4 separate regions of the Homo sapiens genome follow, and all the other regions are reported to be linked to region 1. The links are microRNA targets in miRTarBase. Many come from high-throughput screens and were not tested one by one. Region 1 holds a microRNA gene; each other region holds the end of a gene's coding sequence.
What was found. The annotated mature microRNA hsa-miR-5007-5p reads UAGAGUCUGGCUGAUAUGGUUU and lies in region 1 at 3,825-3,846, opposite strand. An mRNA with a match to its seed (bases 2 to 7 or 8) in the 3' UTR can be bound and repressed. Matches are read on the target gene's strand: a 7mer-m8 pairs with bases 2 to 8, a 7mer-A1 pairs with bases 2 to 7 and ends in A, and an 8mer does both.

Region 1 (7,921 bases):
AGCTGGGATGCAGGACACTATGTCCCGAGGCTGCACAGAGCAGGGGTCCTGGACCCAGACCACAGAACCATTTTTTTCTCCTAGGCCTCTAAGCCTGTGATGGGAGGTGCTGCCAGGAAGGGTCTCTGATATGCCCTGGAGACATTTTCACCATTGTCTTGGTGATTTACATTTGGCTCCCTGTTATTTATGCAAATTTCTGAAGCAGTCTTGAATTTCTTCCCAGAAAATGAGTTTTTCTTATCTGTTGCATCATCAGGTGGCAAATTTTCCAAACTTTTATGGTCTGCTTCCTCTTGAATGCTTTGCTGCTTAAAATTTATTCCAACAGATACCCTAAATCATCTCTCTCAAGTTTAAAGTTTTGCAGACCTGTAGGGCAGAGGCAAACTGCCACCAGTATCTTTGCTAGAATATAGCAAGGTAGCCTTTACTTCAGTTCCCAACAAGTTTGTCATCTCCATCTGAAACCCCTTAAACCTAGACTTCATTGTCTTTATCACTATCAGCATTTTGGTCAAAGCCATTCAACAAGTCTCTAGGAAGTTCCAAACTTTCCCACATCTTCCTGTCTTCTGAGACCTCCATGTCTCTTGGACATTCCAAATTTTCCCACATTTTCTTGTCTTCTTCTGATTCCTCCAAACTATTTCAACCTCTGTCTATTGTCCAGTTCCAAAACTGCTTCCACATTTTCAATCATCCTTATAACAGCACCCACTCTCTGTGTTACCAATTTACTATATTAGTCTGTTCTCGTGCTGCTAATAAAGACATACCCAATACTGGGTAATTCATAAAGAAAAGAGGTTTAATTGACTCACAGTTCCACATGGCTTGGGAGGCCTTGGGAAACTTACAATTATGATGGAAGAGGAAGCACACATGTTCTTCATATGATAGCAGGAAGGAGAAGTGCTGAGCCAAAGGGGGAAAAGCCCCTAAGAAAACCATCAGATCTCATGAGAACTTCCTATCATGAGAACAGTATGGGGGTAACTGCCTCCATGATTCAATTACCTAACATTGGGTTCCTCCATGATATGTGGGGATTATGGGAACTACAATTCAAGATGAGATTTGGGTGGGGACACAGTCAAACCATATCACACATTAAGAAAAATTTTAAAGAGTATTGATTATTTTATGATATAAATAGGAACAGAAATATTTTATCAATGAATGAATATTTAATTTAAGCCAATGACTAAGCTGCTCCCTATTATAGATTATATATTATTAAGGAGTGTGGTTTGTCTTTTCCAACTTGTTTCCATCCTGAATGTTTATTATTCAGGAAACTTTAAGACAATGAGAATTTTAATATTAACATTACATCTTTGACACCTGAGGGAAAAATAAGATGTTAACATAAACTAAAGTCTCACAGAAACCACTTTCTGAGTAATTTCATTGCTCTCCATTATGCCATCTTCTCACAAACACTTTTTAAATTAAACAAAAAGAGATAAACATTATTGCCATGTTCTGTTAAATGGGATGTGTTGGTTAATATTGTATAATTTAAGAATTTTCTTACCCTTCAATTATATATTTGATGGTACTGTAAATTAAGACATGGTAGAAGACATTTTCAAATAAACAACTATTTATTATTGAAGGGAAGTGAGAAAACATTTTCAGTTTGATTAAAATTCATTGAGAGTCTAAATGTATAATACATAATTATCAATATACTTACAAATTGTGAAAATATACATTTGAGAATTTGTAACAGTAAAACCAGCCACCTTTTATTAAAGAGACTGAATATGTTAAAAGGCCCAAAGTTAAATTCTTTTTCCTTTTAGGATAGCCCTTACATTAATTTTCTATTTCTACACAACAAATTGTCACAAACTTAGTGACTTAAAACAATACCTATTCATTTTTTCAGTTTCCATAGGTTAGGATTCCAAGTACATGCTCATGTCCAAGAGGCTGCCTGCACTTCCCTGCCATGAAGCCCTTTCTGTAGAAATTTTCACAACCTCTCTGTTTTGTTCTTTAAGGTCAGCAAGAGAAGAGCTATACAACAATTTATTAAAATGAAGTCTTATAAGTGTATTGTAATCTAATCACTGCAGAGATACCCCAGCACGTTTTGTCATATTCCATTAAATGCAAGTTCCAGTTTTGCCCACATTCAAGGGTATGGTATTATACAATAGGTGACTTCCTGGGGGTTACACTAGAGTGTGTCCACCCACAGCTCAGATTGACTCACATATGTTTATATTTGAAAGGTTGCAATACTAAGGTTGTTTCTGGTATCATAGAATACTTAATAGCATTTACTCAGTATGACTCTTTCAATATCCCTTGAGTAAGTTACTAGTGAGTACTATAAATCTCCAAACCACATAACGTAAAGGAGTGCTCAGAATAGTAAATTACACATAGTAAATATGTAATAAATGTAATGTGTCAACATTATTATTATTTGTATGATTACTGATATATGCATTGGGTTTGAAGATCAGTGTGATAAGCCATACTTGAGTTTCAATGGGACCTGCAATAGATGCACTACAACAGAACAAATAATATGATTGGAGTGACAGAAAAATTAACAACCAAAGATAGATCAAAATCTGAGCTTCCTGATGAACTAGAAACATTGTGAATGCTTAGGTTTCTTGTAATTCTGTAGACTCTCAAACAGTGCTTGTTTGTTTAATTAGTTAATGCAGACTTGGTAGGTGGACTGGAAATGTAGTGACAATGAGTAAAAGATGGGTTTTTAGAGAAACATGTAGGCGGCATTGGGTATGTCTTTGGGATATGTCTATAGTAGGTGAAATTTTGCATCTTTTCTACAGACACTAGCGGAACCAGGAGAGAAGATAATTTCCCTATTATAGCTGATGTCAGCTTACTATTATAAGTAGAAAGGCATGACTCAAAGATAGACTAGTAGAAGAGGGGTATCTCATTAATTATGTCCCCAATAGCTATAATCACTCCTACTTAAAATTTTTTATCCTAACATTACTTTTTTTCTAAGAAGAAATGTTGATAGGCTGTGAAAATAAGACGATCACAAGAAAAAAATAACTCAAACCATCAAATTTACTGTCTTATTTAATGTCTAGCAATTCTTGCCATTTTCAGGGATTCTCTCCTACTCTGCCTTTTACATTGAAGAATATTTATTCTACGTTGTTAGTTCTTGGCTACTGAGCTTTTAGTTTTGACCATATTTATTCGTCGAATCATTAGTTATCACTGGGGTAGTAAGACTGGATATTATATAAACAGTGAAGAGACATCCCTAACAAATATGCTTGTAGAACTGGGGATAGTTAATTATCAGCAGGTTACAAGTGAGCTTAGTCTTTGAAGAATAAATGAAGAAACAAAAGTGAAAACATTGAGGAAAGCATTCCAGAAAGATGAATACAAATGTGCAAAACTTTGGAAACATGAAAATGCATGATGTTTTATAAAGAGAATTTTAGAAGAAGCTTTATGTCTGGAAGGTAAATGAGTTTTGAAGATTTGGCAGCCATGTGAGGCTAAAGGGAGAATCTGGGGCCAAAATATTAACAACTTGGGGGAGCTGAAAGTTTGCAAATATAGAAGTGACGAAGATCTACATTTTACAGACATCTCAGGAGATGAATTTAGGGTTGGTTTTAAATGACAAGAGTTCATTTAGAAAGATGGTACAGTAATACAGGTGAAAAAAATAAAAATTTAATTAAAAGAAGCATTCATCAGTATAAGAAAGAGAAGGCTGATTTGGAAGATATTTGAGGGATAATTTTTAACAGAAATTATTGACTAATTAGAGTTTGGTTCATATGATTTAGCTCTGTGTCAAACCATATCAGCCAGACTCTAATTAGTCACCAAGGTTTACCAAATCTCATGTCAAATTGTAATCCCCAGTCTTAGAGAGGGGTGTCCATTGGGAAGTGACTGGATCATGAGGGTAGAGTTCTCAAAAATGGTTAGGCACCACTGCCTCAGTGCCGTTCTCTGATAGTGAGTCAGTTATCACAAAGTCTGGTTGTTTTAAAAGTGTGTGGCACCACTCCCCTCTCTCTCTTCCTTCTGCTTCAGCCATGTGAAGTGCTGACTCCTTGTTTGCCACCCACCATGGTTGTAAATTTCCTAAGGACTCCCTAGAAACCAAGCAGATGCTGTCATACTTCCTACATACAACCTTCACAACCATAAGCCAATTAAATCTCTTTTTTTTAATAAATTACCCAGTCTCAGGCATTTTTTTATAGCAATGTGAGAATGAACTAATACACTGGCTAAAGAAGCAACATTTACCTCAAACTGCACTGCCCAATAAGATATTCTTGAGCCCGATGTGGTTATCCACTTTTACTTTATATTGATTAATAGGTAAATTTAATTCCTGAGCTGGCATGAAGGAATCCTGAGTCTCAGCAACTCAGGAGATTGAGGCAAGAATTTGAGACCCCCATCTCTAAAACAAAAAATTATATCTCAGTAGAAATAGTCAATTTTAAGTACTCAATAGCTTCATGTGGCTTGTGGCTACCATATTGGAAAGCACAAATAAACAAGATTTTCTTCCTTATTGAACGATCTATTGGACAGCAGTAATATAGAGTCAATTCCTGGTATCCTTTGTGTTTATCAGAAGAAACTTATGAAAAAATCCAATTGGGAAATAACATAATGAGATAAGTCATAAATTTATTATGTTTGCATTAAATGTGGGTATACAATTGTTTTCCACCACTCTTCTGCTTTTACCAATAATGCATCAAGAATATCTGTGTTCTTATAGCTTTCTATTGAGATGCAAAATTGTAGGCAAAATTCCTAAGTGATTATTTATTATCTGCAAGAACATGTAATATTTAAAACAAATAATGATTGCAAAGTTCTCCTCTAATTTATATTATCTAGTTAAATGAGAAATCTTATTTCCCATGCAATAGCTTACAAAACTATATAATACAAAAAATAGAGATTTTCCAATCCAATCTCAGTGTAAAATTGCATATTTTACTTCATATGTATCTGACAAGTGATTCTAAATATTATTACATCTTTATAAGCAATTTGTATAGTTTTTTAGGTCTGACTTTATTATATTTTAAGCTTCTTTACTCCATTGGTATTGATTTGTATGGCATTTTTATACATTTAGAATATAAAATTAATCACAAAGTTGTCTTATAAGTTAAAAATCCCATTTCCCCATTATTTATTTCTTCATTTACTTTGTTTATGATGTAAGTGTAGCCCCTTTAAAATGTTGTTAAATATATCAATATTTCCTTTATGATTTGTGGAATATAACTCTTATTTATGTATAAGATCACTCTTGCCTTCTAGTATCTTGATAGTTCTTATGTTAAAGTATGAATATTTGATCTCCCATTTATTTTTCTATAAATTTATTTTAACCTACTAAGTGGTAGAACATTAAAAAATTGTAGCTATATACAATTGTATGAAAAAAAGAAAAGCACTAAGATTTCTTTGTTTTGTTTTTGTTGTTGTTAAGTGGCAAAAAGTGGCTAAAAAATCCCCTAGACTTTGTATGTTTGCATGCAAAGGATAAGCAGTAGAAATCTAATGTTTATAATAAAATATTGGAATGATTCCAAATAAATTAAAGAAAAAGTAAGTAATATTTTTCTCAATACTATACTCAGGCATTACAATAAGTCAAAAACAGAATAATTTAAGTTTATTTTTTTTAAAAAAAGCAAAATATTCATGCTTTTAAATTTGTGGAAGACCTTATAAAAATAATAACCTAAAAGAATTAACTGATACAATGTTGACAATTGGATTAATGTGATTGAAACTTATAGAGAAATTAAAAGATAAACTTGGCTTTAAGCTGTTGGAAAAATACATAGTTTATATGACAGAAATAAAACCAAGAATAGTATGTTAGAAAATTACGGAATCAAGGTTGCTTATATAATCTGTTCCTTAAGAATAAGTATCAATTAATAACTATTAAGGAAATAGAAACTGCATTGGCAATACCAGCATATCCTGAAGAACAAACTGTAAAACAGACTGAAGTGTTTTATTTCTAGTCAACTAGTTGAATGAAACTCCCATAAAGCCGTAGGTGTGAATGGTTGGAAGGGAAGCAATGCAGAAAGAAGCAGTGTCAAAAGACACTCTATCCCCTAGCCCTGCCCAAACTCATTTTCTTACATATCATTTTTACTCAATGATAGATTGGTGCTGCACATATCCAACTTTATTAATAGATGCGTTTGACTTGGAAAATGCAGACTGTATGGTCACCTGATGTCATCTTCAGTTTGTTCTCTTCTAAGGGCTAATAGTAAGTCAGAAGCTAATTCTCAAGAAGTAGGAAATTTACTTTCAGAAGAGAACATTGATTTACTCCAAAATCCTAGAAGTTGTCCTTGTGGTTCTTCTATTAGTGTCTATCAGAATGGCCTATAAAGCATCTCTATTTACCACAGATACTTTGAATATCAATGGATTTACTGAATCATTAGGCCATGGAGAAGAGCATCTTGTACTTTGGCCTGTATTTATTGAAAAGTCACCTCTTACTATATAGCTCTCAAAGATATAGGCAGCCTTAATATATGATTTGGTAAATATGCTGAAGAAGCACTCTCAACTGTGGTATGTTGTCTCCAAAATCTTGAAAACCCTGCCATGCATTGAGCTTTTACATTTTTTTTGTGACAGTGCAAAATGAAAAAATATATTTGCTACCTTCGAGGCAAGTATAGACATATTCCAGACATTTGAAACCACGAAACTTTAATGAAGAGGTGGATCCATGCATTTTTGTGGAATTACTGCCCAGATTCTGGCTAGAATTTACCTTACGAAACTATGTCATAGTAATTGCTACCTCTTACACATCAGATTCAATAAACTCAATGTCATCAATGTAGTGGACAAGACTGGGGCTTTGTGGAATGTCATGATGATCAAACTCTCTGCAAATCAGATCATATCTAGAAGAAAAAAAAATGATACAACCCTGAAACAAGGCTCTGAAGGTTTACTGTTAGCACAGCTAGGTAAAAGCAACTGACTTCTGAGGATCTTTACAGTATGGAGAAGAAAAGCATTAGCCATATCAGTAGGAGTTTATCAAGTGTTCAATGATGTATTTCATCATCCTGGTAATAAGTACAGTACTTAATAGGTAATTTTTCAATCATCACCCTCCTCCAACCCTCTACTCTCAAGTAGGCTCTGATGTCTATTGTTCTCTTCTTTGTGTCCCTGTGCACTCAATGCATATTCCTGCTATATAAGAGAGACACGTGGTATTTGGTTTTCTGTTCTTGCATTAGTTCACTTAAGTTAATGGCCTCCAGCTTTATCCACGTTGCTGCAAAGGACATGGTCTTGTTCCTTTTCATGTCTGCATAGTATTCCGTGGTATATGTATCCTATTTTCCTTATCCATTCTACCACCGATGGGCATTTAGGTTGATTCCATGTCTTTGCAATTGTGAATAGTGCTCTGATGAACATTCACATCCATGTTTCCTTCTGGTAGAATAATTTATATTCCTTTGGGTATATACCCAATCATGGGATTGCTGGATCAAATGGTAATTCTGCTTTAAGTTCTTTCAGAAATCATCAAACTGCTTTCCATAATGGTTAACCCAACTCACATTGCCCCCAACAGTTTATAAGCATTCCCTTTTCTTTACAACCTCACCAGCATCTCTTATTTTTTTAGTTTTTAATAATGGCTGTTCCGACTGGTTTAAGATGGTATCTCATTGGGGTTTTGATTTATACTTCTCTAATGATTAGTGGTTTGAGCATTTTTTCATACATCTGTGTCTTCTTTTGAAAAGTGTCTGTTCATATCATTTGCTCACTTTTTAATGGGGTTGTTTGTTTTCTTGCCTGTAAATTTGTTTAAATTCCTTATGGATTGTGGATATTAGGCCTT
Region 2 (7,921 bases), not on the chromosome of region 1:
GCTAGGCAATGGGAATTTTCAGCTCCATTATAATCCTTTTTTTTTTTTTTTTTTTAATTTGAGATGGTCTCGCTCTCTCACCCAGGCTGGAGTGCAGTGGTGTGATCTCGGCTTGCTGCAACCTCCACCTCCCTGGTTCAAGCGATCCTCCCACCTCAGCCTCCCAAGTAGCTGGGATTATAGGCGCCCACCACCATGCCTGGTTCATTTTTGTATTTTTAGTGGAGCTGTATTATCAACTCATGTTTTTGAGGAATCCTGTATTTCCAATTTTTATTCAAAGCTATTTATTATAATTTAATTTATAATTAAAATTAATTATATTTGCTGCTGCCCCCTTCTTCCACCCTATAATCTGTTAAAACCTATCTAAAATAAATAATTTATCTTGTCATTGGAAGTATGCACTTAGCTTGCAGTTCTTACCTACATGGGAGAATGAGGCCTAGATTCCTAAGTGTGCTTTCTTATTAAACTAAAGTTATAACTATCAATAAAGACCTTTTAAAAATGTATTATTTTAAAAATTATAACACATTATAAACCTTAAGATTTTCATCTTAAAGAAGAGGTGACTTAATTATATATTGTTTATATTTAGCTAATGGCTCAATTTCTTGTAAGGAAGAAAGTTTTTTTGTTGTTTCGTTGTTTTGTTTGTTTGTTGAGACAGAGTCTTGCTCTCTTACCCAGGCTGGAGTGCAGTGGCACAATCATGGTTCACTGTAGCCTCTGTCTCCCGGGCTCAAGCAGTCCTCCCACCTCAGCCTCCCGAGTAGCTGGGACTACAGGTGCCCACCACTGTGCCCGGCTAATTTTTGTATTTTTAGTGGAGCCAGGGTTTTGCCCTGTTTCCCAGACTAGAAAGCTTTCTTAAATTGATTGTATTTGTTGGCTGGGCACTGTGGCTCACACCTGTAATCCCAGCACTTTGGGAGGCCGAGGTGGGAGGATCACTTGAGCCCAGGAATGCAAGACCAGCTTGGGCCACGTGGTGAAACCCTGACTCTAAAAAAATTAGTTGGTCCTGGTGGTATGTGCCTGTAATCCTGTGGGAGGATCGCTTGAGCCTGGGAGGTGGAGCTTGTGGTGAGCCATGATCATACCACTGCACTCCAGCCGGGGTGACAGAGTGAGACTCTGTCCAAAAAAAAAAAGATTGTATTTACAAAGATGCTGACCTCTACCTGTGTAATTACTAGGGAATAGTACCTGTTTTCCGTCCTGTAACCAGAAAAGACTATTGTTGTACTGATTGATGTTATTAAAATAGCCCCATTGTATCACAGTCCTTTGTACATCTTTAAGCTTGAATCCGTGTATCTAGTGTATTGCAGAATTTTCATAAATTTTTTTTTATTTCATAAAACTCATCGAGAATATACATTTTCTTCATGTTGCAAACTGGAAAAATGAGTGAAGTATAGTGAAAGGTAAATTCTAATTTTGCATAAAATTGTCATGGAATTTACTTGTATAAAATTCTCCCCTAATGTGATTGTGACATAAATTCATGTGTGGGAAAGAAGGGGCAGACAGGAAACTGAATGCTTAATTCCTTAAGGAAATAATTTAAAATGTTCAAGGCTTCTTGTTTGACTTTCATTGATAGTCACTATTTCAAGTTCACTTGTGCTTTGAATCAGCAAGTTCCATAAGGCTGCAGGCTTTCCATGACACATGTTTTCTTTTCTCCAAGGAGTCAGAGTATTCATCGAAAAGAAAGCACAGCTAACACTTTTAGGAACAGAAATGGACTATGTTGAAGACAAATTATCCAGTGAGTTTGTGTTCAATAACCCAAACATCAAAGGGACTTGTGGCTGTGGAGAAAGCTTTAATATTTGAAATCTCAGGACTCTTCTGGCCGTAGGTTCCAGGAAAGCTCGTGGAAGCTTTGGGGCTCACTGCAGAAATCATGTGACTGTCACGTGCTGGAAAATAAAGTGATACATCTTGAAAATGAATCCAGTGTGTTGGATTCCAGAAGAAATGATATTTATATTCTCTATAGGGGACAGAAAATGAGAAGCCATCACTCTTTTTGGATCATTTAGGTCTCTTGTATCCTTTGTTTTAGAACCAGTTTCATTAAAGTTGCCTTCCTGGGCACCTGTTTATCCATTTCCTGAACTGTGTGCACTCCTTAGATCGCTATTGATGGCTTGATCATCCCTCAGCATTTCTCCCAACCAGATCGGTGACTCCTAAAATCTGAGACAGGACATCGTGACTGCTGGTAGTAATATGGTGGTGCATTGTTTTTTCCACCCAAACTTAACATAGCCTTTTTATACATTTTTATGAAAAATTTCATTGTCAGCTGCCTCACTGCATACTCTTTAATAGTACCAGGCAAAGATTTTCTTCAACTATAGTACAGATTAGTTCTGAGTGATGGTATCAAAAGGTGAGAAAGACGTCATCCGCCTTTTTTTAATCCATTTCTTTTGCCACCCTATATGTCTGTTCAGAGATGGGCTCTCAAGCTGACTTTGATTCTTTTAGTTGAGAAGTCTCTTAAAGCCATCTAGCCCACCTCCATCAATTCCCTATGTGAGGAAGCAAAACCCCAGGGAAGCCAAAGGGCTCCTGTCCACCCTGACACCACAGGCCGGGGGAGAGTAGGGACTCTACCCCCCTCTCCCCTTGTAGGTGACACATGCTCTGCCCTCTGAGGCAGTCAGCGAAGGCAAATGGTCTGACTTCTTTATGTGGTCAACATTTTGATAGAATTTCTTTATAATTTGATAGAGATTATATTATTTTTATTTTATTTTGAGTGGGAAGAATTTTAAAACCTTTTTATGTCAATTACCATCTTGTTTCTTTCACCTTTGAAACAATGGTTTGTAGCAGAGATGACATTGTAGCAACCCAGAATTATGCTTTTGGAATGTGGTCCTCACTGTACAGGAGAATGTGTAATCTTTTGTTAAAATTCCCAGTGTGCATACATTTTCTGGTTCCTCGGTCCAGTTGCTAAAGTTCTTAGTATTTTAGCCTAACATATTTATCACCAACTTTTCTTTAAAAGTGTTCCTTTTGTCACTTAGTTACTGATTTTCCTGGGTTTGACATAAGTATTCTATGAGATGATATATATGCTTTTTTTGAAAGCTGATTCTCATGAATTCAAGTAGCTGAGTTCCTTTATGTTTCGTTTATTCACTAAAGTAGCTGACACAAAACACACCAAAACCTAGAGCGGTAGTTTTATGTAAATGCTCATGAGTTTGTATCAATAATATAATTGTTGATCCACTTATAATTCGTGCAACACTGTATGTATGTAGAGATTGAGTTGTCAATTAAAAAAAATGTGGCCTCTTTGTGATCATAAAATTGCCTTTTATTATTGAGGGGAGAGGGTTTGGGACAGCAGCTGCTAAAGCCAATAAAAAAATGACTGTCTTTTTTGCCTAGGCTGCCTGTCACCAGGCGTCCTCCCTACCTGACACTGTTTCGTCCAGAGTCCTAGCTGCTGATTCTCCACACAGCCCTGGAGAGACCATCTCAGGTGTCTCTCATCTCCCTGGCTTTGCTAGCCTCTTTTTCCTCCTTGTTCCCCATGAGGGTCATCCATCCCCCAAGCAGGTTCCTCATGTCCTTAGGACGAGAGCATTATCACTACCTGGAGTGCTTTTCCCTCTGTCATCTGAGCTTTTATGTGAACCTCCTCCAAGAAGGTTCTCAGCTGTTCACTCAGGCACAGTAGTGAGCACTGACTCTCCACTAGCCCTGAGCTTTCACAGGTCATCAAAGACAGTCCCAACCTCAGAGAGCTTCAAGTCGGCAAATGAGACACCAGCGAAGAGCATCGATCACCATGGTAAGTGTTGTGAGCAGCTGGTGGTGATGGCATGCTCACTGCATGCCAGGAAGTGTTCTAATAAACATCATCTCAGCAATCGAGAATGCAGGTCTGACTACTGTCTTTTTCATAGATAAACCAAAACACAGCTTAAATAAAATAGCTAAGGTGGCCAAGTCAGAATCGTACCCTGTGTCTATGGCTCCAGATGCTGTGCTCCCAGCTGTTAGGCCATACTGCGTGTCCTGATAGAACCAACGGAGTGCGCTTCTAAAAAGGTAGCCTACAGGTTATGACCCCTGCGCCTAGTTGAAAGAGATTTGGGGAAGAGGGAAGACAGTGAACAGTACTAAAGAGGGTTGAAAAAACACAGAGGGCGTGTTCTCACTCATAGGTGGGAATTGAACAATGAGAACACTTGGACACAGGGCAGGGAACATCACACACCAGGGCCTGTCGTGGGGGAGGGATAGCATTAGGAGATATACCTAATGTAAATGACGAGTTAATGGGTGCAGCACACCAACACGGCACATGTATACATAAGTAACAAACCTGCACGTTGTGCACATGTACCCTAGAACTTAAAGTATAATAAAAAGTAATAATAAAAACACAGTGAAGCTAAGCACTCCGGAGAATGAGGCCCGGAGAGGAGCAGTAAGGCTGGAGGGCAAGGTAGATGCCTGGGGCGTTTGGGCTTTCTGCAAGTTCTGTAGGCCTTGGGGCCACTGAAAGTGTTTAGGGGCACTCATTAGAAAATTGCATTTGGAAGTGTTTCCATGGCCTGGACTAGGCTGGCTGATGAGGACAGGAAGAAGCTACTGCAAAGCCCGCTATAATAGGACCTGAGCAGGGACCCGTGAGAGAAAGGCTTAGGAGGCAGAAAGGATGGTACTCTATCCGTAGCCCAACCTCATCAGCCAGTGTTCTGTGACTCATTTCTATTTGTACAGGCAGTACTTGTACTGTTCATTGGTTTTGGTTCTTGTCTCTTGTACAATATTGAAAGGATCTTGGAGACAGGAACGCAATTGCTTCTTCAGTGTTCGTTTAGCATCGGGCAGGTCAGAATTATTTTTGCAAAATGGCTCCATCCTACGGCCATGTCACACCATGTCATGCAAGCCTTAGCCCTCACCAGGAAGGTTCTGTCTGTTGCACCACATTCATCCACATTCTACTCACAAACACTGGTCATTGTGTTAGGCGATTTGGTAGTGCCCCTGGGTGATGTGTAGGCCAGCAGATCTGTCGCTTAGCAGCAGACTTCAGGCTTTTCATGATCAGTTATAAGCCCACTCTTCCACATCAGGATGCTAAATTGAATGAATCAGGCCATGAGGACAGAGGCCTGCTGTGCTTCATTGTTGCAGGGCGCCTCCCAGCCCTCTGTCACCGGACCCACCAGAATGATTTTTTTTTTCTCAAACAGGAAAGGGTTGGGAACAATCCCTACAAGATCAGATGTCCCTAAGATTTCCAGTATTTCCTAGGTTTCACTCAGCAGGAAATACCTCAAAAAAAAAATGGCCTTTCTTGTCATGTTTTGATACCTGAGAAATCAGGAAATGGAAAAGCCTGTGCTAAGCTGAGCTGTAAGCAACATCAGTGTCTCATTTGAGCCTTAGAGCAGACGTGGCATGGGCCAGACACAGCATCGACCCAGAATAAACCCAAATACAGCTCACCTGAGCTCAGTGCAGGCTGGGAGGCTGGCCTGGAAAGGTGTAGGTTTGGGGTGAGATATGCCTGGATTTGAATCATGGTTCCTGTCATTTTGTAGCCATGTAACCTTCTGTAAAACAGTCTCAGAATTTGGGGGGATGTGATGAGCTAACTACACATAAATGGCATCCTGCTAAGGGTAGACGTTTCATACGTTGTAATTCTTGTCCCTTTTAGCCATTTTCTTGTGCAAAAAGGGATAATATGTTAATGGATTATCAATCAAAGCAAGAGCTTAGGGAAAGAGTTTCAACACATTTAGGGAGTTATTGTCCCATATTCAAATCTGGGGGAAATTTGCTGTATTTCCTTCAAATAAAAGACCACAGTAACTTCTTTGAAAAGAACCATAAATTTCAAATATAAACATTCGGAGAAATTTCATTCTCTTAGTAGCTGATTAACTATAGACAAACCTGCCTTAATTGAGGAGCTGTTTTGAAAGCTCATTCCCCAGTAGGAACTCAATCTCCTGGTCCCAGGTGGGTCTCATCAGACAAGAGATGGAGGAGAGAGGGAGGTGCACCCTAGCCTCAGCCTCTATTGAAATACAGAGCCATGTGGTGGTTACATCACTGTGGACTCCCATCCTCCCTTGCTGCTGTGCAGTGTTCAGGGAAGGCTTCATTTCACACCAACCTTTAGCGGGGCAAGGGCTCTGTACCAGCGGTACTCAGCTTAAAACTAGCCTACTTTGAGGGCCTTGATGGGTTACTGCTTTTACTTCCACTAGCTAGTGATTCCGAAACTTTTCATGATGAAGTGCCCATTTATTGGGCCAGGTGTGTTGGCTCAAGCCTGTAATCCCAGCACTTTGGGAGGCAAAAGTGGGCAGATCACCTGATCCCAGGAGTTCAAGACCAGCCTGGGCAACGTGGTAAAACGCCGTCTCTACAAAAAATACAAAAATTAGCTGGTCATGGTGGTACATGCCTGTAGTCCCCGTTGCTCAGGAGACCAAGGTGAGAGGATCACTTTAGCCCAGGAGGTAGAGGTTGCAGTGAGCCAAGATCGTACTACTGCACTCCAGCCTGGATGACAGAGCAAGACCCTGTCTCAAAAAAAAAAAGAATAAAAAATAAAGTACTCATTTTTTGTTCTCCATGGATTCTATGTCTTGAAGCAGTCCTCAAACTTTAAGGTGCAAATAAGTCACCTGGGGGTCTTGTTAAAAAGCAGATTCTTGGCCGGGCGCAGTAGGTAGCTCACGCCTGTAATCCAGCACTTTGGGAGGCTGAGGCGAGTGGATCACTTGAGGTCAGGAGTTCGAGACCAGCCTGGCCAACATGGTGAAACCCCATCTCTACTAAAAATACACAAAAATTAGCCAGACATAGTGGTGGGCGCCTCTAGTCCCAGCTACTCAGGAGGCTGAGGCAGGAGAATCACTTGAACCTGGGAGGTGGGGAGGTTGCAGTGACATGAGATGGCACCACTGCATTCCAGCCTGGGTGACAGAGCAAAACTGTCTCAAAAAAAAAAAAAAAGCAGATTCTGTAACAAAGGTCCAGGGCAGAGCCTGAGATTCTGCATTAGTAGCAAAGGCCCAAGTGAAGCCAGTGCTGTTGCTCTGCAGAACACCTTTGAATGGCAGGCTTTTGAAATATTTTCTCATTGGAAGAATCTTCTGTATTTATTAAATTCTGCTTAAAATTATTAACTTTCTTGTATATCCATGTTCATAACAGCATTATTCACAATAGCCAAAAGGTAGGAACAACCCAGGTGTCCATTGACAGGGGACAGGGGGTGAGAAATTTATTTCATGGACACAGATTCAGGTGGAAAAGATGAAAAAGCTCTGGAGATGGAAGGCAGTGCAGGTGGCACAACAATGTGAATGTACTGAATGCCACAGAACTGTGTACCTAAAACGGCTTAACACGGTAAGCTTCATGTTATGGATATGTTGCCACGGTGTTCACAAGTTATTAACTCAATCAGACTATTTAAATGCCCAGTAGATTGCATTCTGGGGAAATGGCTGTTTCAGGAAAATTTTCAGTGATTGCCACAGGGACCTCCCATGGGTGGGGAATGGAGTCTGGAGCACGGCTGCATGGCTCATGGAGAGAATTTGCACAGCCAGGTAGCCCCTGGTCCACTTCTACCCATATCTGGCCAGGTGCAAAGAGCATAGCTGTACCTTCTATTATCTCTCTCAATTTCTTATTTGCACTTTGCCCATGTCTATAGAAGGAAAAACTTGACTGATTAAAAATTACATTCACGGCACCTGTAGTCCCAGCTACTCAAGAGGCTGAGGCAGGAGAATGGCGTGAACCCGGGAGGCGGAGCTTGCAGTGAGCTGAGATCGTGCCACTGCACTCCAGCCTGGGCGACAGAGTGAGACTCCATCTCAAAAAAAAAAAAAAATTA
Region 3 (7,921 bases), not on the chromosome of region 1:
CCTTGATCCAAAACACAGCTCTTCGTAGTTTAATTTTAGGCCTAACCATTTTGTCTTTTTATAAAGGTTAAAAAAGAAAACAAAGAAAGGACACATCGCCTGTAACGCAGAAGTGAGATAATGATATCAACCGGAGTTCGTTATTTATCAAGGGACAACAAATCACGCTCACACTGCCCAGGGAGAGTACTACTAAAATTAAGATACAAGGATGGGTACAACCTCACACCCACTGACGATGACACGCTTCTGTTCTTGGATGACTTATCTTTAAAGAATTAGTTAAAAGGTTGAGTGGCAACGTTTTGTGTTTGTGCGTGCGTGTGTTTCCAAGAGAGCCAAACATGGTGAAAAACCAATCTTAACTTCACCTAAGTTATCTAAAGAAGCAAATTTCACCCCTAGGCTGAAGCTCAAACAGGAGCGAGGAGAAGCTCCGAAAGATCAGTTCGTAAGCGGTGGCCCTCAAGCGCCCGGGACGCTCTACGTTTTTACCAATGTGGAATGTGGAAAAGAGGTTACAGGCTGGAGCTGAGAAAACAGTCAAGCTACTCGCGACAATATTCCTGAGCAGTGAAACGGGTGAACAGAGAGCGAGCAAGCAGGGGCTGAGAATCAGTGAGAGGAAAAATCAAGGAACAAAACCGGAGAGTCTGGTCCAGCATTAAGAAAACGGAGCAAAGGAAGAGGGTGAAACGCGAGGGGAGGGAAGACCGAGAGTCGGCAGAGACCGTGGTGCCGCGAGGTTCAGAGCAGGGCTGGGTCCAGGAAGAGTCAGACCTCCGCAGCCCAGCGAGCTTCCCATTTCTGGCTAAAGCCAGCGAAGAAAACGGCCCTGGGGAGCAGACAATGAGCCACCGCCCCAGGAGCTGCGGCTCCCAGCACGCAGGTGGCGGCTCCCCGGCCCCGCGCGGGGCAGGTCGGCCGTCCCGGGCCGCTCCCGCCCGCCAGGCCACGGAGAAGGAAGGAGGAGGAAGAGACCCGGCCTGCGTCCCGCGCCGGCCGGCCTGTGTGCACTTACCCCGGGCAAGGCAAGGTCCCCGCCCCAGCGAGGCGCCTCGGTCAGAGCTCCCGGCGGGCTGCGGAGCCGCCCCGGGCTAGCGCGCGGTGCGGGGAGGGGAGGGGAGGGAAGGGGAAGCGGGGCGGGAAGAGACGCCGCGCTGGAGCAGCCGCTGCTACCGCTAGGCCCAGCGGCGGCGGAGTCCTGCGCACGCCAGGGAGGGGAGGGGAGGGAGCCTTCGGCAATGGCGACGGCCCGGGCCGGAGGGGAAGCGGAACAACCGCCGCCGCTGCGCGTGGCCACAACCCTGGGGGAGGAAGACGGCGGGGAGCGGGGCGGGGCGGGGCCAGAACCCAGAACCCCTCCCGCCCCGAAGCCGGAGCTCCCCGGGGCGGAGACGAGCGCCACCTCCCATGGGCAGGCCCGCGCGGGGGCCGCTGGGAGTAGTAGTTCGGTGATAGACGTTGCTTTTATTCCTTGGGTAGTCTTTGTATTGAGAGGAGCAGCCAGTCCCTCATTTAATTCAGCATTGTCTCCAAGCAGGTCTCTGCCGACGGAAGACGCTGACAGACGATTGCTGTTATACACATCTGCTCCGCGACATTTGTTTCTGGGAATTCATCCGTTATCCATTTTGCTTTTTTGCTTACAAATTCTTAACTAAAATTTTGCTGCTAAATTAAGTATCACCTCCTTGCAAATTAAGACTTCCCTATTTTATCCACGGAGGAGTTCATCAATGTTTCACTTATTCTACAAATATTTGAGTGTCTGATATGGACTAGACACTGTTAAGCATCAGAAATACAAGGGTGGTTCAGGTGCGGTGGCTCACGCCTGTAATCCCAGCACTTTGGGAGGCTGAGGCAGGCGGATCACCTGAGGTCGGGAGTTCGAGACCAGCCTGGCCAACACGATGAAACCCCGTTTCTACTAAAAATACAAAAATTAGCTGGGCATGGTGGCACGCATCTGTAGTCCCAGCTACTCGGGAGACTAAGGCAGGAGAATCGCTTGAACCCAGGAGGAGGAGGCTGCAGTGAGCCAAGATCGGGCCACTGCACTTCAGCGTGACAGAGTCGTCATGCCTCAAAAACAAAACAAAAAACACAAAAGAAATGCAAGGGTGAACACGATTCACCAAGCCTTTGTGGAGCTTATATGAGGACGCAGTAATTAAAGTAGTCACACCTGGTATAAGAAAAAACTTGGCGAGGTTACTTTGGATAGGGTGGTCGGAGAAGGCCTCGTTAAGGAGGTGACACTTAAGGCAAGAACAGAAAGAGACAGCAATAAGAAGCACCCAGAGAAAAGCAATACAGGCAGGAGAAGAAAGAAAAGGGCTTGCTACGGTCAGTTAAGAAGGCCTGTGTAGCTGGGGCCTAGAACAAGAAGGCGGTACTATTAAGAAAACACTACAGCAGACAAGATTCAGGTCATGAAAGATCCTGAATGCCATGGTAAAAAGTCTATATTACAAAAAACCATTAAAAGGCTTTTTTAAGCAGGAAAGCGATGTTACCTGGCTTACACTTTAAGATCACTAGACTGCAATGTGGATAATGGAGTATAGAGATGCAAGAATAGAAGGGAAATAAAGTAGGAAGGCAGTGGAAAGAAAGAGGAATTGTGCTTCTCTATCAATGTAGAGCAAAAAACTCAATTGATGCAGTGGGTACAGGAGAGAAAGGAATCAAGGAGCAACATGGCACAGTAAGAGATAACCTGAAAAATGCTCTGATTATTAAACACACAGAAACACTGGATAAATAAGACATCCTTTCAAAGGCATAACTTGCAAGAATGAAAATAGAATGTTTCTGACAGTCTTCCAAATTTCACACTCAACCTGAAGAAGGGGCAGGACACCAGAGTGGTAAGCAGGGCAGTGAAGCCATGGTTGTGTTGAGGGCACCTACTTATCTCAGAAATCTCTAGAGTTTTAATAGGTGCACAGGAAACTAAAGACAAGGACTTGGGCCTATACAAGAAGTCAGGACTGTGATCCTGCATAGGACTGGAAATTCAAGGCGCTATACCCTCCAAGAACAGACTGGGGGGAAAAAAAACCCTATGCTAGCCCAGGGAGACACACAGGACATTTGTTTACTTTGGCCTGCAGTGGGCTTGCAGGGCAGAAGAAAATTTTCCCTTTAGAATTAATAACCCTTTAGAATTTTCCCTCACTAAGGTTTTAAAGTTCAAATTTGTCAAGAAAGTGGTCCCAGGCTGGAGTTCTGGGGGGCCTGGAAGAAACAAATACAAATCCTGACTGCACAGGTGTACCCTCAACCTCGGTCTCAAAGGATTTCACAGATAAACAGGATTTCCGAAGCCAAACATGAGCACCCGAAATACAATACACCTGAGGAAATAAGCAGCGATGAGTGAGTCAATAGAAACTACAAAGAACATAATGAAACCCACACAGACTTTAGCTGCTGGAATTGATGGCTACAGAATATACAGTACGCCTATTTAAATGATTAAAGAAAGTAAGACAGGAGCTAGAAAACACGAGCAAGAAACAAGATGCTTTTTTTTTTTAACGACCAAACAGCTTTGAAAATGAAATAAGTAGGCCAGGCGCGGTGGCTCACACCTGTAATCCCAGCAGTTTGGGAGGCCGAGGTGGGCAGATCACCCGAGGTCAGGAGTTCGAGACCAGCCTGGCCAACATGGTGAAACCCCAGTCTCTACTAAAAATGCAAAAATTAGCCAGGCGTGGTGGTGGGCACCTGTAGTCCCACCTACTCAGGAGGCTGAGGCAGGAGAATCACTTGAACCTGGGAGGTGGAGGTTGCAGTAAGCCAAGAACATGCCATTGCACTCCAGCCTGGGCAACAAGAGCAAAACTCCGTCTCAAAACAAAAACAACAACAACAAAAGAATTAAGTAGAATTTCTAGAAACAAAGAATAACTGAAACCAAAGCCAATGTTTGGTTAAATAGCAGATTACACACAATTGAAGAGAAAATTAGTAAACTGGAAGACAGACCAAAAGAAATTACTGAGAACAGCCTAGAGACAGGAAAAATGAAAGCAAGCTTAAGAGACATGGGGATAGATTGTTAAGGTCTCTACCATACTCCTAATGAGAATTCCAGGAGAGAAAAGAGAAAAACCAAGAGAGGCAGATAATGATGAGATAATGGCTGAAAAATTTCCAGAATTGATTAAAGACAGGAATCTTCAGATTCAGGAAGCAAACTGAATACCAAGCAGGATAAGTAAAGAAATTTCAAACACATGAAAATGAAACCGCAGAATACCAGAGATAAAGCAACCAGAGAGAAAAGACATTCTGTACAAACAACTATTACATTCATAGCAGATTTCACAACAGCAAAACGGGTGCCAGTCAATAATGGTATATTTTCAAAGTACCAAGAGAAAATAACCAAGCTTAGAAGTGTACAGCTACCGGCTGGGCACAGTGGCTCACACCTGTAATCCCAGCACTTTAGGAGGCTGAGGTGGGCAGATCACCTGAGATCAGGAGTTCAAGACCAGCCTGGCCAACAACGGCAAAACCCTGTCTCTGCTAAAAATATAAAAAATAGCAGGGTGTGGTGGTGTGCGCCTGTAGTCCCAGCTACTTGGTAGGCTGAGGCAGGAGAATCACTTGAACCCAGGAAGCAGAGGTTGCAGTGAGCAGGGATCACACCACTGCACTCCAGCCTGGACGACAGAGCAAGACTCTGTCTCAAAAAAAAAAAAAAAAAAAAAAGTGTACAACTACCTAAATTATCCATCAGATGAGTGAGGATGAAATAAATATATCATCAAACATAAACAAGCTACCAACAGAGACACACTAAAGGAACTCCTTAAAAGGTATATTTCTTTCTTTTTCTTTCCCTTTTTTTTTTTTTTTTGTGACGGAGTCTCACTCTGTCGCCCAGGCTGGGGTGCAGTGGTACGATCTCGGCTCACTGCAACCTCTGCCTCCCGGGTTCAAGTGATTCTCCTGCCTCGGCCTCCCGAGTAGCTGGGATTACAGCCGCATGCCACCACTCCCGGCTAATTTTTTGTATTTTTAGTAGAGATGGGGTTTCACCATGTTGGCCATGTTTACAAGATAATACAAACAAAACCAGAAATGTTCTGTTATACTAAAAGTGATGTCATCTGCAACCATTTATCTAAGCAAGAAGAGTTATATCAAAGTTTTCTTCATTCACATTTTTATTACACTTCTGAATATTTGTATAAGTGAGTAAATGGCTGAACCACATTCCAAGCCACAATCTTAAATATTTTAAATACTGATGAAACCTGGTTGTGATGAGCAAAAACAAAAACATTCTGTATACACATACCCCCACATACTCTTAAGATGTTAAACAGTACCGTGTTCCCTCCCCGTCTAACCATATTCCAAAACGTTGCCTGTCAATCTAACCATATCCCAAAACAATGCCTGAATTGTAGCTGACATATATAATTCCATTTCAGTGTCATATTATTAATCCCATAGTGAAAGAAATGTTTCTAAAACATGAAATTCTTTCTTACGAGAAAGCATGAAATAGGTATGAAACTATACTGGGTTGAAATTTTAGTCATTTTAAAGGTCACTGTTTCTGCTTTATGGCACTGGGTTACCTTTTCCAATATTTAAGTCTCAAATACACGTTTAAAAAGAACTGTTAGGACTAGTCAGGTCATACATGTCAAATTATACAAGATGTAGTCCCATGAAAACACCAAAATACTTTAGGAAATGGAGCAGTGATGGCATATACAAAGGTTTATCACATCTCAATACTCTACATAAAATAAATAATGCCAACACACCCTGGTTTGATGTCTTCTGTTTTGGAACATGCTTGCCCTAAGGTTTTATTTACTTTTTTTTTTTTTTTTTTTTTTTTTTTTTTGAGACAGAGTCTCACTCTGTCGCCCAGGCTGGAGTGCAGTGGCGTGATCTCGGCTCACTGCAAGCTCTGCCTTCCGGGTTCATGCCATTCTCCTGCCTCAGCCTCCCGAGTAGCTGGGACTACAGGTATGCACCACCATACCCGGCTCATTTTTTTGTATTTTTAGTAGAGATGGGGTTTCACCGTGTTAGCCAGGATGGTCTCAATCTCCTGACCTCGTGATCTGCCCGTCTCGGCCTCCCAAAGTGCTGGGATTATAGGCGTAAGCCACCGCGCCCGGCCAAGGTTTTATTTTTTAATTAGCCTATGGCACTTACTTTATTTTCTAATTTTTTTCCAATCATAACAGTAAATGAAGAACCTTTGTTTAAAAAAATTACCTGATGATTCCAATTATTGTTCATGTACAACTTTATTTAAAATGGCAATCTGAGTTGTCTTCCTGACATACTCTGTACCAAATCTTAGTACTCAGTTTCATCAAGTCCTTTGCCAATTCATATATTCAAAAGAAACATGATAAAATGTAAAAGGAGAATGGAGTGCGTTAAGGAATAATCAATAATTTAAGATTATCAATAATTTTGATATTAATATTAATTTCTTAGCTGTCCTACTTTAATGATTTTCATTGAAACTCTGGCACATCTTTAATAGTCTCATGACATTACTATTTAAATAAACATGATTTTCATCCAAATTATTTTATTCTTCTTTTTTGTTTTTCCTTTGGAGACAGGGTCTCGTTCTGTCGCCCAGGCTGTAGTGCAGTGGTGCGATCTTGGCTCTCTGGAACCTCCGCCTCCCAGGTTCAAGCGATCCTCCCGCCTCACCCTTCCAATTAGCTGGGACTACAGATGCCCACCACCAGCCCCAGCTAACTTTTGTATTTTTAGTAGAGACAGGGTTTCACCAAGCTGGTCTCAAACTCTTGACCTCTGGTGATCCGCCCACCTCGGCCTCCCAAAGTGCTGGGATTACAGGTGTGAGCCACTGTGCCTGGCCTATTTTATTCTTATTTATAACGGTTTTCTCAATTTGTAGCTTAAATTGAAAGTACTTGCAAAATGAGAATAATTTGTCTCTACTACATAAAGAAATAATTTTTCTACCCCAAATGAAGATAAAGTCACTTCTCACAAAATAAACATTAATTTAGCAGAATTAAGTTTCCCCTTATGGCATCTGATGCTTGAGGATTACCAAGGATCCATGCAATAGAGCACTACATTTTGGAATTAGCTGAGAATGATCCCAAATTTCCTCTAGTAAACATAATTTTGGCCACAAATGAAGACAAAAGATAAAAGTAATTAATTCTAGAAGAACACCTCTCGTCAGAAATTAATAGATCTTATTTAGGTTTCTAGGAAGCATTTAACTACATAAAACTTATAGGGAAAAATGGCCATATTTGAAAACTGCTACAAGGATCAATGTAGAGCACAGGATTGTAATGAGCAGAGTCACAGAACATACTAGAGAGGTATGTACAGTCAGTCCCACTGGAACTTGTAGAATCACATTCTTATATACCTATGGAGAGAGAGAGAGAAGTTAGACATTGAAAATGCATGTCATGGGCCCGGTGTGGTAGCTCATGCCTGTAATCCCAGCACTTCGGGAGGCCAAGGCGGGCAGATCGCTTGAGGTCAGGAGTTCAAAACCAGCCTGGCCAACATCTCTACTAAACCATCTCTACTAAAAATACAAAAATTAGCCAGGTGTGGTGGCAGGTGCCTGTAGTCCCAGCTACTAGGGAGGCTAAGACAGAACAATCACTTGAACCCGGGAGGCGGAGGTTTGCAGTGAGCTGAGATCGTGCCACTGTACTCCAGCCTGGGAGACAGAGGAAGACTCTGTCTCAAATAAATAAATAAATAAATAAAAATAGTAAAATAAAATAAATGTCATAAGGTGAGACCACTATTTCTTTGATTTTTAATTGGATATTTTTATTTCCTTTTTCTTTTAAATATATTTCAGCCAGTGCTACACTACATGTAATATTATTGGTTTGAATGACTTTTGAATCTA
Region 4 (7,921 bases), not on the chromosome of region 1:
TACAATATGAACTATGTGGACAGGCGTAAGGCCAGTGGCAGAGGCAAGCAGGCTTTGCAGGAAGGTGACAGGAGGGTGCTGGGCCTCACCAAGGCCAGCAGAACGAAGTGGCCTGAAATTCGCACCGGCACGCCCTGAGAAACTCAGCCCTTCCTTCTCAGGCTCCAAGCCCAGCTTTGTGAGACCTGATTGTGACCACCACACCTGGGACATTCCTCTACCCCCTTTTGTGTTCTCTCTCTCTCTTCTCTCCCTCATCTCTCCTTCCTTCTCTTTCCCATTTATTCATTCCCTCCCTACCATTCATTCCTTCCCATTCATTCCCTTCTTTCCTCCCTCCCTCCCTCCCTCTCCCTCCCTCCTCCCTCTCCCTCCCTTCCTCCCTCTCCCTCCCTTCCTCCCTTCCTCTTTTCCTCCCTTCCATCCTTTCTTCCACTCAGTTGAATTCTATGAACCAATTTTAACCACAAGAGAACATCATCATCCAAGTTAATCACGACAAACCTCAAATAGAACCCAACTACCAGAACTCAGAGAGGGACAACCGCTCATGGAGAGTTTGGTGGTGGTTCTCCTGGGGACTCAGGAGAGGGCCTGTGCCTGAGCTGCATGCTGAGCACCCTTAAGTCAATCACAGTTCCGGAAAAATGATTGCACTTGATCTATACCTTTTACTCTCTCTGCCTCTTTCTTCACTTTTTCACTGTTGAGCTGTTCATAATTTCCTCTGAAAAGGGAGAGTTAGGAGGCATTCAGAGGATCTGAAGGGTAAACCCATTAGTCATTCTGTTTCTAAGCACCTGTAATGTCAAATATAATTCAGGGAAAGGCTGACTCCGACTTCTCTGGTTTTCAAGTTTATCATCTCTGCTCTCTGTATCTCCTCTTGCTGAATATACACAAGAGTCAGCTGAGAACTTGATAGGCTCACTCAATGCATGTTCAATCCCACAGAAGGTACATAGTACATGTCTGAGTCTCTCATTGTAATCTGCATTTTGTCTGATGATAGCAACACAAATGTACTCTGCATTGTGCAATAGATATGTGTGCAAATTAATTTTTCTTGGCAAATTATTTGTTTGCGAATGATTTACCTAGCATTTAAGAAATTTTAGTGAGATAGCAAAAGTCACCAAAAAATGTAACCATCACAAGTTGGTGTTTTCTTTCATAGGCTTTTCCTAAATTGAGAAACACTGGCCTCAGGTGTTCCAGTACGACACAGAAGGATGTTAGAACTGTGTGTGCTTGTGGGTGTGTGTCTTGTGGGTGTGTGTTGTGTGTGTTTGTGGATGCATATCTCTGTGTCATGCATGTGTGTGTTTATGTGTGTGGGTGTGTGTGTTGGGGGAACAGCCATGGTTGTTCATATCGAGGAATAATTTCCAAGTGTATGTTGTTAATGAATAGACTTCTAACAGGATCAGCTGCATTTAACCCTAAATAATGGATATTTATTGCAAGTGTCCTGTACCATTAGCATAACAGAGCAGAACCCTTTGTTCTTCTTAAGTCCTGTGCCTTTGCCACAGCCTTTTGCACAATCTTAAAAGCAGGCTGACTCAGAATTGACCACCATCTGCTGTTCCTGACTTGGAATCACCATGAGATTTGTGCAGCCAAACAACCAGCGATCTGATCTGCCTGTCCAATTAGTTAAATAAACTGAAAGGGCTTTGCTGACAAAGTAGTGATAAATGCTCCAATGATAATTATAGAACAGTGTTTTCACATCGCATCCATTGGACATGTTTAATTCTGCGCCAGGCATCACCCATGTAATTTACAAGATGCAGAGAATTAAAGAGTGATGAGGGGGCCATGGATGAGTGGACTCAGCTGCCATGGACACTGGGCGCAGTGCAGCCCAGCCCTCTGTATTCCATGTCCCCAAGGGCAGCACGCTGAGGGGCAGGGTACACATTTGCTGAGGTAATGAAGGAAGGCAGAGCCCAGCGCCCCCTGTCGCCTCCAGCAGGTGCAGGTGCAGAAACTCAGCCACAAGGTACCTTCTTTTTAGCAACTCTTTGAAAGGGGAGATGGATAAATGTAATGACCTTGAAAGCAAGTTCTGCCAGGTATTTCGAGTTGTCGTGAAATATATTAAAACAAGTTCACAATCAATGTGTTTAAGAGTTTATTAGGATAGGCACATAACAGAAAGCTCAAAGGACAACAAAGCTGCACCTTCCTAAAGGCTGACCCTCAAAGCACCATTTTGTTAGAACTCAGAGGAGAAGCTCGATCTCTGAGCCTTCCCTCCTCACAGTTTGGGAAACATGCACAGGATGAAGGTAAATCCTGCATAGAAATCTTGTAATTCCAGAATTAGTCAAACAAATTTGAAATACACACATTTAAAAATACTTACATTCTCATTTAGCATTCATGAAGTGATTACTGACATTTACAATTACATCTGACATCACAGAGCAAGCCTTTGCAGGGATCTAATTCAAGCTTAAGCCAAATCTATGCAAAGAACTTCAGCTCAGAGGAATAGTGGGCAAAATCTGCTGAAAAGAACTGCTTGCCACCTTGCAGATAAGAGCAACAGCACAATAAAGGGATTCCAGAGCTTCTACCTAAAATAGAAGGGCATTATCTACAAGAACAGACCAAAACACAATTTATTTTTAAACAAGCCCTTCAGTGAGTATTTGTCTCAGGAATCTAGTATGAAAATAGTGTCTTTGATTAGTGAATATATGGAGAATTCGGATTATCATCTCTATTTTTAGTTGAGAAAATGCACAAACCATATAGATTTAAACCATGGGTTTTGCAGCCGAAGTAGAGACAGATGTTTTCTGGGATCATATCTCAGATTCCCAAGCTAAAGCTATTGTTCAAGGTGATGGAAATATGTAGGGGGCATTAAACCATTTTGCAGCTGCTAGAAAGCTGTGTTTTCCTGTTTTCCTGATTTAGACAATGGAGAAGCTAAGAAGAGAAATAATAGGAAAGGCTTTCCTATGTTAGTTTTAAAAAGACTGTGTTATTTTTAATTCAATTTTTTTTTGTCAAATCTCATCTCTGTTCTCCTAGTTTTCACAGAAATATTTACAGGAATAAAGGTTGAAACAAAAGTACCTAATGATCATCTCCATCCATCGAAAGATTGCTCAGGGATAAGACACTCAAACAAGGGCTTGTGATGAGGATGGAAAAGACAAAGCAACTTGAAGAGAAAAAAAAATTCTTTTAAACTCAGTTCATCCTGCAAAATGGACATAACACATGCATATAAAGGTTTGACTTTTTAATTCCACTTTTTTGCCTGATCGCAGGGAAGATGGCATGTGGCTGGCCCTTCCTGAAGCCTTGCTCCTCCACCACTGGCTAACAGACAGGCCTCCAGGTGGCCTTGCAAGGCCGACAGTGACCGCAGCCCACTTCCCCACATCCTTAATCAGAGCCTCATGCAGTTCATCCCCACATTACCCAAACATAACGTCGTAGTGCTACACGTAGATGTGTTGCATCATGATGCTATGGCAATGACGATGACGCTTAGGTGTGTGGGCCACCGAAGGCAGAGACCAGATGTGGTTGGTCTTGCCTGGAAGCCAAGCTGTTGAGCAGGGGTGGAGTCCCTCTACAGAGGATGCTCACCAAGTTCTAATGCATTGTCGATAACTGTCCTGCCCTGGTTTTTCTGCATTCCTCAGATTATCTGTGGGAATTGTCCTCCTGCATCCTTTCTCAAATGACAAAGAAGAAAGAAAGAGCAGTGATGGCACCTGAAATTCAGGAATGAGTAGGCATGGCGAGCTGGGTGTGTGAGATGTTCTCTCTTTACATTGTCTGCTTTGAGATGTGGGATGAGGGGAGGGAGAGAGTTGGTCCTGAATATATTCAGTTTTTTCCAAGAGTCTCCCAGAATTATTGACCTATTTGGACAACAAATCTTCATTGTCTTGGTGTCCATCTCCAAGTGAAAACTTCCCCCGTCCCCATGGCCCTGGCTTGTTCTGCTGCTGAACAGGTCACCTGGGCAGAAACACTGTGTCTAGCGAGAAGTTAGCAGGTGGCAGGGTGCACCTCTCCCCATACTGTGACCCTTGGATTCCCCACTGTGCCACGCCCGAGCAAGCTGGGGCCCCTCAGGACAAGGACGATTTGTTAATGGCCTCTTGGCCGGTGGGCATTTGTTTACCCACTACTGTAGCCCCAAGATCCCCCAAACAAGAATTTCCATGCTTCAAAGTAACAGCAAAAATAAACAGGAGAATAAAGCACGTGTTTGAGCCCAGTGGTTTCCATCAGATGCACAACCTGAGCTGTCTGGTTGGGTTGCTGGCTCTCCCCCCGTGGTGGGAGTGGTGTGCAAGAGAAAGCACCACCCAGCAGGAGAGGGACCCAGCCTGCCAGGGAAGGTTTTGAGGAACTGGATTCTTTATCACCCATTTCTCCCCTTGTGGGTTCCACAGAGGGGTTCCATGACCTCCCTGTTGTTGAGAACAGGGCTGCATTCAGAGAACAGACGATGGGCCTGGGCTGTGAGAGCAATCAGAACACTGTGAAAATAGGAGGGCTCGTTGGATCCCAGGAATCATACACAGACTGCGTTGGGGCTGTGGGAAGCCAAGGACAGAAATGTCTCCTTCACCCCAAATGATAAGGGCAAGGATTTTCAAGGCCCAGAGGGAGAAATGTTGCATTTGCATTTATTTAAGTGCTGATGTTGGTCAGCAGCGCATCCAGCCATGTCTTTAGAATCCTCTGAATGGCCAGACAGATGGCTGCTCTCCACACCACAGACTGCCCAGCTTCACACATCACCTAGAGTCTCGTGGCCAAGGAAGTTTTGCCAAATGGACACAGCCTTTGTCTCCCTTAAGTGTTAAACACCAGAGTTCCAACTGAAAACTGGAGACCATGAGATGACTTTAAAAAGAAGTTCCAAATGCCCCATCGAGCCGCACAAAACCTCCATCTTTCCTTTCACTTCCCCTGCCCCTTTAGTTTTCTATTAAAAACAATCTGAACCATAGCATCTATATTTCAAAACTGGCAAGAGTATTAACCCTGCACCTTGTGGCCCTTCAACCACTCCAGAGTGTCACCTCAGAGACCGATGCATTGCTAAGGCAAAACCAGAAACACCCTTTCTCTGAGGCTTTGGGGCCTTGGAGGGAGACACATTTCCTCTGTCTGTTCTCCTGCACAGTGGTGGTAAAAAGCCCACAGGAGACATGAGGCCTCCCAGAGATACTCAGGTAACTTCTAGTGACTCTGACCATCGGTGACCCCCAGGAATGTGTTCCAGTGCCCCAGGCAGAATGGTGCCGTGTCTCTGTGTGTGTGTGTGTGTGTGTGTGTGTGTGTGTGAGAGAGAGAGAGAGAGAGAAAGAGTGCACACTATCGACTACATTATCATAGGGAGAAATATTTGCAAATGTAACTTTTAAAATGAGGATATAATTTAAATGGCTTTGAGCAGTTTTTGCTGTAAAAATGATTTTAGTTAGTCATCTCTTTCCCTCTTCCTTCCCTCCTTACCCCCAATTTTAAGGAAAAGAGACAGAGAACAAAAGTTCCTTAAGCAAACTGCCTGACTAGCTCCCTACTTGGTGTGTGCGCCACCCACACTTCAGGATTTAAAATCTCAGGATGCTGCATCAACTGTGGACTATGAACTGTGCTAAAATGCTTTAAAATGACAACTTTCAAAACACAGTGCATCATCTCCCGTTCACACATCCTTTAGGAAACAGCCTGATGGAACTTTCTGCAGGGCTTCCTCTGTCTGAGCTCGGAGCACTGGCATTCCGGGCAGGATGAAGTGGAGGCGGGGCCACAGGCAGGGTGTCTGAGGCCTGCCCTGGCTCAAAGACAGGTTGTCCTTGAATTTGTTTCCTTGTTAGTGTTGATCACATCCGTAGTCAAGTGTGTGGTAACCTCAGTACATTTGGATGAATTAATTCAAGTATCTGTGAACAAATCCCTGGCCTCTCTCGCCCTAGCCCCGTAGATTATGTGACTTCACAAACACCTGTAATGCACTTCAAGCAACTTTTCTCATATTTTTCAAGCTTCCTTTGCAAATAAACCCAAGGCTATTAGAAATGTAAGAACTAAAGAGGCACTTCCTGCCTCCTTGCCACCTAAGAGGTTAATTGCACTTCTGGCCATTCTGGAGGATGTCAACAGTATCACATTTAGCAAGACTTGTGCTGGCGAAATGGAGGAATGCAAATGTAAAGAAATGTTTCCAGTCCGAACATGTTCCCTTTGACCAAAAAACCAGATCTTCTTACCTAATTGAATAATTAATTGATTTAGTTTTCATCCTAGGAAGAGAAACAAATCATTTCAATCCTAATCAGCATGAGCAACTCACCTTTTCCTCTTAGATGGTGGAAGTGAGCAGAGAAGATATTCAGGGGAGCCCCTTAGCCCCGGCCTCCTCACACCCTGATCCGGAATTGGTCACATTGGAATTTGAAAAGGGAGGGGGAGTAACAATCATTATAGAGTCACGAAATCCCCACCGTGGCACGCCAACACACAGCTTCCACTTCAGGAACATCAAACACCCGTAGAAAATACCTGCATGTTCCAAGGGGCCTTTAAGGAGGAGACTTACAATTGTTTGCTAAGATTCCAGTCCAGTCTTTCAAAAAAATGTGGGTGCCCCTTTGGAATGGGGAGTTCAAAGCTCTGAGGATGGTGGCTGGTGACTCTAGTGTCTCTAGGGCCACCTCACTTTCAGCAGTCTGTCCCAGGTGTCGGACTATGGGAAACAAAACAGACAGCGTTGGAAGCCATGGCGCCTCTGTGCCTGCACGTCCCCACCTTGGGAGAGAGCCCCACGTGCGGCCGTGCTGCAGATGGGCAGTATGCTCTAAGGGGGCCCGAGTGCCTGGCGTGGGGGGAGGTTGAGGGGTCAGCTGCAAGGACCAGGGTGTGTCTGCCCACAGGAAACCTGGGCCTGCTCTTGCTGCCACCTCTTTGTACTGTAGTCAGTGCCCCCATGCCTGCCCATCCCCTCCCCCGGTCACTCAGGGCCCCCTTTACCTGTACTGGTTCTCCATGGCCCTGCTCTCAGCTCGCTCTGGAACCCAGGAGTAACTGTCTGCCGCATTCTGGGGCTTCTTCTCCTTCTTCTCCTCCCTCTTCGCTCTCCGCTTGCGATAGACCAGTAGCCCCAGAGCCAGGGCCAGCAGGAGTAGGATGGCCACCACGGTGCCTAGGATGTAGAATAAAAGCAGCTTTTGCCCGTCAGTGCCATCGTTGTTTTGTGTGGCCACGGAGGAGTCCCCACCTGCAGGCTCCTGGGGGCCAGAGGCAGCTGTGGCGTGATGGATGCTGGGCTCCCTCCAGACGCCTGGGGACCCACTGGGGGCCAGCATCTTGAGTGGGGCAGATGTGATGGGGGCGTCAGATGACAGCGAAGGTCTACTTGTGGTGGGTGTAGCCTTGGGGGTGCCCTCGGGGCCCCTTGTGGGACTGGCTGTTGCAGCACGGGGCACGGTGCTCCCTTCTTTCTCTCCTTTGTCCTCCTCATCGGGGGGCCCAGATGGTGGTCCCAGAGACACAGGCCCCATGGTGCAAGAGACCCCATTTGGGGCCAGCACCCAGCCTGGCAGGCAGCCACAGTGGAAGGACCCTTGTGTGTTGAAGCACAAGCTGTCGCAGAGGGGGCCCCCCGGGCCCACACACTCATCCACGTCCTGGCACTGAGTCCCGTCCTCCCCGGCCAGGACGTAGCCCTCCTCACAGGAGCAGTGAAATGAGCCATCTGTGTTGGTGCAGCCCTGGGCGCAAGGCGAGCGACCCAGAGCACACTCATCCACATCCTGACAGGCCCCCTCTCCAGGACCGCCCGGCTCATAGCCAACCCAGCATTCGCAGCGGAAGCCCCCAGGGGTGTTGACACACTCCTGGGCACAGGGGGAGTCCTGGCATTCAT

Region 2: miRTarBase lists ISCA1 as a target of hsa-miR-5007-5p. Seed matches in the 3' UTR shown: 7mer-A1 at 2,630-2,636.
Region 3: the mRNA of PIGX is a reported target of hsa-miR-5007-5p. Seed matches in the 3' UTR shown: 7mer-m8 at 5,890-5,896.
Region 4: miRTarBase lists CD93 as a target of hsa-miR-5007-5p. Seed matches in the 3' UTR shown: 7mer-A1 at 6,481-6,487, 8mer at 4,790-4,797 and 7mer-m8 at 3,875-3,881.

The regions. Positions count from the first base shown.
Region 1 is chr13:55,170,399-55,178,319 of GRCh38, reverse strand. It overlaps MIR5007 (microRNA 5007), which reads right to left and starts at 3,866; the gene lies at 3,772-3,866. The region is part of intron 4 of LINC02335 (long intergenic non-protein coding RNA 2335); the gene reads right to left.
Region 2 is chr9:86,259,970-86,267,890 of GRCh38, reverse strand. ISCA1 (iron-sulfur cluster assembly 1) reads left to right here. Exons shown (of 4, transcript NM_030940.4): 4 at 1,700-3,345. The coding sequence ends at 1,848. Among named protein-coding and RNA genes, the nearest start is that of C9orf153, 4.3 kb to the right of the region's middle.
Region 3 is chr3:196,733,258-196,741,178 of GRCh38, reverse strand. PIGX (phosphatidylinositol glycan anchor biosynthesis class X) reads right to left here. Exons shown (of 6, transcript NM_017861.4): 6 at 5,172-7,420. The coding sequence ends at 7,277. PAK2 (p21 (RAC1) activated kinase 2) reads right to left here and starts at 1,322. Exons shown (of 15, transcript NM_002577.4): 1 at 1,022-1,322. RefSeq lists a silencer at 742-1,531.
Region 4 is chr20:23,077,233-23,085,153 of GRCh38, forward strand. CD93 (CD93 molecule) reads right to left here. Exons shown (of 2, transcript NM_012072.4): 1 at 7,027-7,921; 2 at 2,128-6,742. The coding sequence ends at 6,718. Among named protein-coding and RNA genes, the nearest start is that of CD93, 5.1 kb to the right of the region's middle.